2 linked regions of the Homo sapiens genome follow. The protein of the gene in region 1 interacts with the protein of each later gene in a pairwise test. Each region holds a gene or a part of one and is shown in the gene's direction. Other genes may lie near its edges.

Region 1 (3,821 bases):
GCTGGGACAGAGTCAGCTATGACCGCTCAATTGCTGCTGTCTCATCTGGGCTCCTGTAACCAACTCTGGTCTGTTTGAGCCAGGCATCGTGGTTCTATCGCCAAAAGCCTACTGTGTTATAATCGTACACTCCTTTCTTTCACACATGCTCAGCCTGATCTTCGCTCTCCACTTTTCCCAGTTTTACTGGCTTTTTCTAACAAGTCTTGTTGAACTTGGGTTACCAGCAGACAAAAGGAAACAGAGGCAGGGCTCCTCTCTCCCAGCCGCCACCAAAATTGCCACCCCGTGTCATCTGTTTCAGTAGTGCCCACTCTAGAAGGAGCTATCCTGAACTTCCTGACGCCCTCACCATGCCACTGCCTGCTGTTTCTGGGCAGCAGAGGCTTCCTAGAGAAAGTCAGACTCAGGAGCTCTGCCTTCACCTGGTTATCACCACTGCCCACCTTCTGTTGACTTCCCATCAAGGCTGTTTGAATCTTTTCCAGGGTCAGGTAAAAGCTGTGCATCTCCCCAGTGCTCAGGGTTTGTGACAGTTGGGAGAAAGGCAGGGGACACGAAGTCACTGCTCTCCAAACCTGCCCTGTCCTTTTCCTACTGTCCGTCTGGTTTCTGCTCCACTCAGCCTCTGTCCCACTTCTCAAGTCCCTCATGAAATGAAGCCTCCTGCTGTGCTTAGTGCTGTGCTGTGCTCAGTGCTGGGATGGGTTCATGTTCCTGCAGAAATTGTGGACAGGTAGTCAGGTGAGGAGCAGGGAGCACTGGGGATGCATGCACACCTGGCAGGAGAGGGTATGCCAGGCATGGCTTCCGGGAGAAGTAAAATCTCAGCTGAGACAGGCAAACTGCATAGGTCGGGTGAAAGGGGCAGGGAGGGAATGAGCGTTCCACACAGAGGCAGGGGGTGTAGAAGCACAAAGGAGGGGGTCGTGGTGAGGAGGTGGAGGGCTGAGCCGGGGCCGGGTCATACGGGGCCTTGGCAGCAGTGCAAAGGAGCTTGGACCACATTCTTTGTTTCCACTCGGAAGTGAAATACTGGACTGAATAGTCTTTGAGACTGATGTAGGCCACACTGATTATTTTACTTGAGATTTTTGTGACCATGAGAATATCATCTGCCAAATCCCTGTAGTAGTGGGCTAACAAGATAGTATTCTGGTCATGTGAAAACCCCAGCCCATTTCCCAAAGGACTTACTTTGTCTCTGATAAGAGGTTTGGTGACAAGTTTGAAGGCTCCAATGTATACAAGTGAGAATAGAAAAGATATTTTCAGCCCTAGAGGTGTTTATCAACTGGCTAACATGACACCACTGAGAGCATTAAACAGCATAAAAATAATGACAAAGCTGTGATCAGCAGCTGCAGATGGTTTTTGTACACATTGACCATCTAGGGTGAGTAAAGGGGAGTTCAGGGAAGGCCCACGGGGCAGAAGGTGAGGCCAGGGATTGGCCTAGAGGGGAAGCAAAGGCAGACCCAATACCAAGGAGCTAATCTTTTGCTAAGCAACGTGGTCTGGAACTGGCGGCCTGAAGTGCTTGATTACCAGGGATACTGTTGCAGATGACTGGGGAAAGTCAGATCCTCCAAGCCGAGCCACCTGCAATTCAAGGTAGAATCTGGCAGAATACATTCATTCCTGTGTGAAAAATTCGAATCAGAGTTTTCTCTAACTGCTTACCAGATAAACTACTACTTGGCTTTCTTTACTTCTTGCCCTTTTTCTTGCTTCTTACTTCCCTCCTTTCCTCCTCTCTCCTTGTTTCCTTCCTTCCTTCATTTCCTTGTTCCTTCCTTCTTTCCTTGCTTGCTTTCTTCCATCCTTCCTTCCCTCCTTCCTTTCCTTTCTTCCTTCCTTCTCCTTAACTTTATAATTTGGTAATGTCTTCCTTAAAAACCTGACTTTGGAACGATACTACACTTTCTATTCAGCAACGAGTAGTAGTTTTGCCTCCCTATGTTATTGTTGTGTTTAAATCCTGGATTCTTTCCTGCTGTCATACTTTGTCATGAGAGTGAATCTTGCCGGGCGTGGTGGCTCATGCCTGTAATTTCAGCACTTTGGGAGGCTGAGGTGAGTGGATCACCTGAGGCCAGGAATTTGAGACCAGCCTGATGAAACCCCATCTCTACTAAAAATACAAAAACTAGCATGGTGAAACCCCGTCTGTACTAAAAATACAAAAATTCGCCAGGCATGGTGGTGCGTGCCTGTAATCCCAGCTACTCGGGAGGCTGAGGAAGGAGAATCACTTGAACCTAGGAGGCGGGAGGTTGCAGTGAGCTGAGATCATGCTACTGCACTCCAGCCTGGGGGAGACAGTGAGACTGTCTCAAAAAAAAAAAAAAAAGAGTGAATCTTTGTGATTGTCCTGGAGGGAATGTGCAGAGAGAACTTGGAGAGCCAGTTCCATGGGCTGTTGATTAACCTGACAGAAACGACATCCTGTTCTTGATACCTTAATAATTTATTTGTATTAGCATGTCACTTTCTCCAACTCTATTTTCATAGTTGGTTCAGGCTGCCATAATAAAATTCCATAGACTGGGTGGCTTAAACGAGAGACATTTATTTCCCACAGTTTAGGGGCAAGGAAAGCCCTGGCAGGTTTCATGTCTGATGAGGGGCCATTTCCTGGTTCATAGATGGCACCATATAGCTGTGTCCTCACGTGGTGGAAGGGGCAAGGCAGCTCTCTGGGGTCTCTTTTACAAGGGCACTAATCCCATTCGTGAGGGCTCCACCGTCCTGATCTAATCACCTGCCAAGGCCCTGCCTCCTAATACTATTGCCTCGGGGTTCAGGATTGCAACATTTGAACTTTGGGGTAGGGGGCGGGGAATGGGACACAAACATTCAGACCATAGCATCTGTTTTCTGATTTGAGAAACTGGCATAATAACATCTATGTATCTACATGGATGAATTTAGCAGGGTCTTGAAAAGATTCTTCACACATTAGAAAATGTTAAGACATGGCCAGGCGCGGTGGCTCACGCCTGTAATCCCAGCACTTTGGGAGGCCAAGGCGGGCGGATCACGAGGTCAGGAGATCGAGACCATCCTGGCTAACATGGTGAAACCCCGTCTCTACTAAAAATACAAAAAATTAGCCGGGCATGGTGGTGGGTGCCTGTAGTCCCAGCTACTCGGGAGGCTGAGGCAGGAGAATGGTGTGAACCCAGGAGGTGGAGCTTGCAGTGAGCCAAGATAGCGCCACTGCACTCCGGCCTGGGTGAAAGAGCGAGACTCCGTCTCAAGAAAAAAAAAGAAAATGTTAAGACATGTTCCTTTTTTTTTTTTTAAGATGACCATTGTTGGAGATTTGGCAGAGGGTGGTCAGTTATTTTAGAAAGGGCTCAAATGGTGATTGCCATTACCCACTGTCTTTAAAAGCTGAATGATCAAAATAGTATACATGAAAAGATTTCAGGAATTCATAAGTTTTCCGGTTTTCCTTGATGGCACTTTCCAGTCACCTACCCTACATATGAAAATGGGAGCCTATTTCTGTTTTCAGATTGCAGAGGGAATGGCATACATCGAGCGGAAGAACTACATTCACCGGGACCTGCGAGCAGCTAATGTTCTGGTCTCCGAGTCACTCATGTGCAAAATTGCAGATTTTGGCCTTGCTAGAGTAATTGAAGATAATGAGTACACAGCAAGGGAAGGTATGTTGCACTAATGATCTTTAGATGTTTTATTATTGTGTTTTATTTTGTTTTTGTCTGTTTTTGACAAAGCAATTACAATAGTCACCATTAAGAAAAACTTATTTGGTACAACATTTAAGCTGTACCATAATTGTCTGCTTA
Region 2 (3,821 bases), on another chromosome or scaffold:
CTGAATTTTAAAACTGAAAGAGATAACAGAAATAATCTAGGTTAGCTCCTCCCCTTCTTTTTATAACAGATGAGAAAATGAGACCCAGATGGATCAATTATCTCAAGACTGTATAGTCAGATACCTTTTTGACTGTCCCTGTCAGAAAACTTTGTTAGCCATGCTGTTGATCCCATAAGTATGGCAGCCCCATAGCTACTTTACTTTATTCCCTTTAGCTGTGTTGGTTTGTTGTTGTTTGGTTTTTTGTCTCTTGGAAAAGAAGATACAAATTAGTCACACAATGTTAGAGCTCAGAGGAATCTTAGAAATCATATTAATTAACTTTTTCTTTTACAGTAAGGAAATGGCCTTACATTTTCCCCTCTTTATTGCAGATCACAGCTTTCTGGGATTTGAATGGCAGAAACGGTGGTGTGCTCTCAGTAAAACGGTATTCTATTATTATGGAAGTGATAAAGGTAATGTTGGTGTTCAATTATATCAACTACTATTGCAAAAGAATTTTTGGCCATCCCTTCCCCCTCTTTTGAGTACAGAGTAAACTGAAGACAAACTAATAATAACTGAGAATTATAACAATTATAATCTGACTAATTTATGATTCATTTCATTATTTGACAAATGCTCCAAATACCAGAATACCCTCAGAGCTAAAACAATTGTGTTGTATTGAATTAGAAAAGAGAGTAAAATAACTTTAATCTGTGTGGCCTTTCACCTTAGGGAATATTTATTATCCAGCCTACTGTTGTAGAATTTCTGGAAAAGTTAAGAACATAGGGTTGTGAGAGTTTCAATGGCAGAAAATAGATTATTTTTCTTAAATATTTTAAAATAAAATTAGATAAAATTAAATACGAACAGCACCTTTCTGAGCTCCCTTTACAGATTTAAGGAATAACAGCAAACGTGTACATAGAATTTACTATATACTGGGCACCGTTCTAAGCACTTTGTCTAAGTACGTTAGCTATGTTAACTTGTTTAGCTCACAACAACTCTGTAAGTACTATTATTAGCACCATTAATTTGACTTTTAGGAAAACTGAGAACAGAGAGGTTAAGTGACTTGTTCAAGGTCACAGAGTTGGAAAATGGCAGATCTAGGAATTTGTTTTTCCTTTGTTTTTAGAAACAGGGTCTTGTCTCGGTGCCTAGGCTGGAGAGCTGTGACTGTTCACAGGTGTAGTCATCACACCCTGCAGCCTCAAACTCCTGGGCTCAAGTGATCTTCCTGTCTCAGTCTCCCAGGTAGCTGGGATTACAGGTGCACACCGCTGTACCCAGCTCAAATTTGGGATTTTAACCTAGAGAATATGGTTAGAGTCCATGTTCTCAACCACTATTGTCACTACATTAATTTAGAAATAATAGGATACATTTTATAACTTCATTGTTAATTAATAAATCTCTCAGTTGTAGTTCACATAATTTTAAGATTGTTATTTGAACAAATAAAGCCACCAAATAATGAAATTTAAAGATTGTAAGCTTTCTGAGTTTTGTTTTATTCTGGGGAAAACAGGCTAGGAGTTGAATATTATAAAGTAAAGGTTGTATCAAAATAGATAATGTTCATTTCCAGAAAGGACACTTTAAGAAGAAAAAGGCAAAAGTATCACTGAATGTAAGCTTTCCTATGGAATTGTTATCAGTGTTGTTTGGAAATTTATGTTTTATTTGACATTATTTATAGTTTTTAGAGTTTTTTCCCCCATTCTAAAAACATACAGGTAAGATTGTCATATTTCAGATAAGTCTGAAATACTTACATAATGCTGGAAGTTGTTCTTACCTTTTGGCTAATGAGATTAACAAATTAATTAATTTAGTAGCTAGTTTGCATTCCATCACTAATTTACAGTATGTTCAGATGTAGTAATGGCATCAGTGAAGTGTAAACTGTAAACAGCTATAAACAAGCATCTTTCTTCTGCTAAGGGTCAGTAGTGAAGTAGGTCAGAAAATTTAGAGTCCAAGTTCAGTTACGATTATCACAGATCATAGAAATATAGTTTTGTATGATATTGTGAATTTAGATCGAGATACTACCTTCCACAAAATATCCTCTTTTTCACCAGACCAGGGGAGGGAGGTTTCAGATCCTTGTGACTTTGATTCAATTAGGCTTCTCATTTCTAATTTCTTTAAGAATCAATGAATACTAATGTCAGTGTTTCCTCCATTTCTAGTCCTGACTGGCATATAACAATGGTTAGGTCAAAGATTAGCAAGAGTTTCCCCAAAACCCAAAGCGTGTTAATATTTACTTCAAACACTAATATATTCAATGAAAACATTTTAGTTAGAGTTATTTAGATATTAGTTACATTCCTTTTTTTTTTTTTCTTTTTAGAGATGCGGGGGCCTCACTCTGTCACCCAAGCTGGAGTGCAGTGGTGCCATCATAGCTTACTGCAATCTTGAATTCCTGAGTTCATTTTTATTCTTATTTGATGAGACCTAATGGTAGTAACATTGTTTGTAATTTGCATTTTAACTACTTTGTGATCCATTTAGCCCTTTCTGTCATTTCTGTTACTGGAAGGGGGTCTTGATCCAGACCCCAGGAGAGGGTTCTTGGATCTCATGCAAGAAAGAATTTGAGGCCAATCCGTAGAGGGAAGTGAAAGCAAGTTTATTAAGAAAGTAAAGAAACAAAAGAATCACTACTCCATAGGCAAAGCAGAGCATAGGCTGCTCAGCTGCTTACACTTATTGTTACTTCTTGATTATATGCTAAACAGGCAGTGGATTATTCATGAGTTTTCCTGAACTGGGGTTGGCAATTCTCAGAACTGAGGGTTTCTCCCCCTTTTTAAGCCATATAGGGTAACTTCCTGATGTTGCCATGGCATTTGTAAACTATCATGGCACTGGTAGGAGTGTCTTTTAGCATGCTAATGCGTTATAATTAGCATATAATGAGCAGTGAGGAAAACCAAAGGTCATTTTCATCACCATCTTGATTTTGGTGGGTTTTGGCCAGTTGCTTTCCTGCATCCTTTTATCAGCAAGGTCTTTGTGATCTGTACCTTGTGCCAACCTCCTATCTCATCATGTGACTAAGAATGCCTAACCTCCTGGGAATGCAGCCCCCATAGGTCAAAGCCTTATTTTACTCAGCCCCTATTCAAGACGGAGTTGCTCTGGTTTAAAAGCCTCTGACACTTCCACTTTAAAAAAATTACCATTTTAGCATTCCTTTTTCATGTTGATGTCTGAAGATGTGGCTTGTGTTTCCTTAAATTTTTCCCTTTTACTTTGCAGCCTCCTGTTTCCAGTGAAATTTTAGATTTGTTTCTTGTGGTTCTTTTTTCTATTGGCGGTTTCATTCGAAATTTTTAGCCAGTTCCTCTCTTTTAAGGGACTCCAAAAAAAGATCTGTCTTTAGACAGTTTTTAATTACTTGTTTGGCATGATCCCGATTTCCTTCCTTTATATCTTTTTCTTACCAGGAAAATATGTCAAATAATTTTTTTCTTTTGTGAAATTAGATATGATTTTTTATAGCCTTGTTTACTGTATGTGTGAACCATTTACCTAATGGGAAGAACTCATATCTAGCTATATGAGAACTATAATCCTCCAACTAAGTAGGATTTAGATAAATGGATTATAGAGGCACAGAAGGAGTTGACACCACTTACTAGGTTAAACTGTGCTTTGTTACTGTTTGACAGATACATAGTTCACATTTTCTACCATATTGCGTGTGCCAAAAAACATATTGACCTATCAAGATAGGAGTGGCTTAGAAAGAGTAGTTCCAACCTGTTGGGTAAATAATGCACTTACCATTGTACCAATAAATATTG

The links.
Region 2: the proteins of LYN (region 1) and SKAP2 interact in a protein complementation assay, tested with the Homo sapiens proteins (one study listed by BioGRID).

What each region holds. Positions count from the first base shown.
Region 1 is NC_000008.11:55,994,823-55,998,643, forward strand, and holds part of LYN (tyrosine-protein kinase Lyn), read left to right. Parts: intron 1-3,523; coding exon 3,524-3,677; intron 3,678-3,821. UniProt on the Homo sapiens protein: Non-receptor tyrosine-protein kinase that transmits signals from cell surface receptors and plays an important role in the regulation of innate and adaptive immune responses, hematopoiesis, responses to growth factors and cytokines, integrin signaling, but also responses to DNA damage and genotoxic agents.
Region 2 is NC_000007.14:26,735,435-26,739,255, reverse strand, and holds part of SKAP2 (src kinase-associated phosphoprotein 2), read left to right. Parts: intron 1-377; coding exon 378-461; intron 462-3,821. UniProt on the Homo sapiens protein: May be involved in B-cell and macrophage adhesion processes. In B-cells, may act by coupling the B-cell receptor (BCR) to integrin activation. May play a role in src signaling pathway.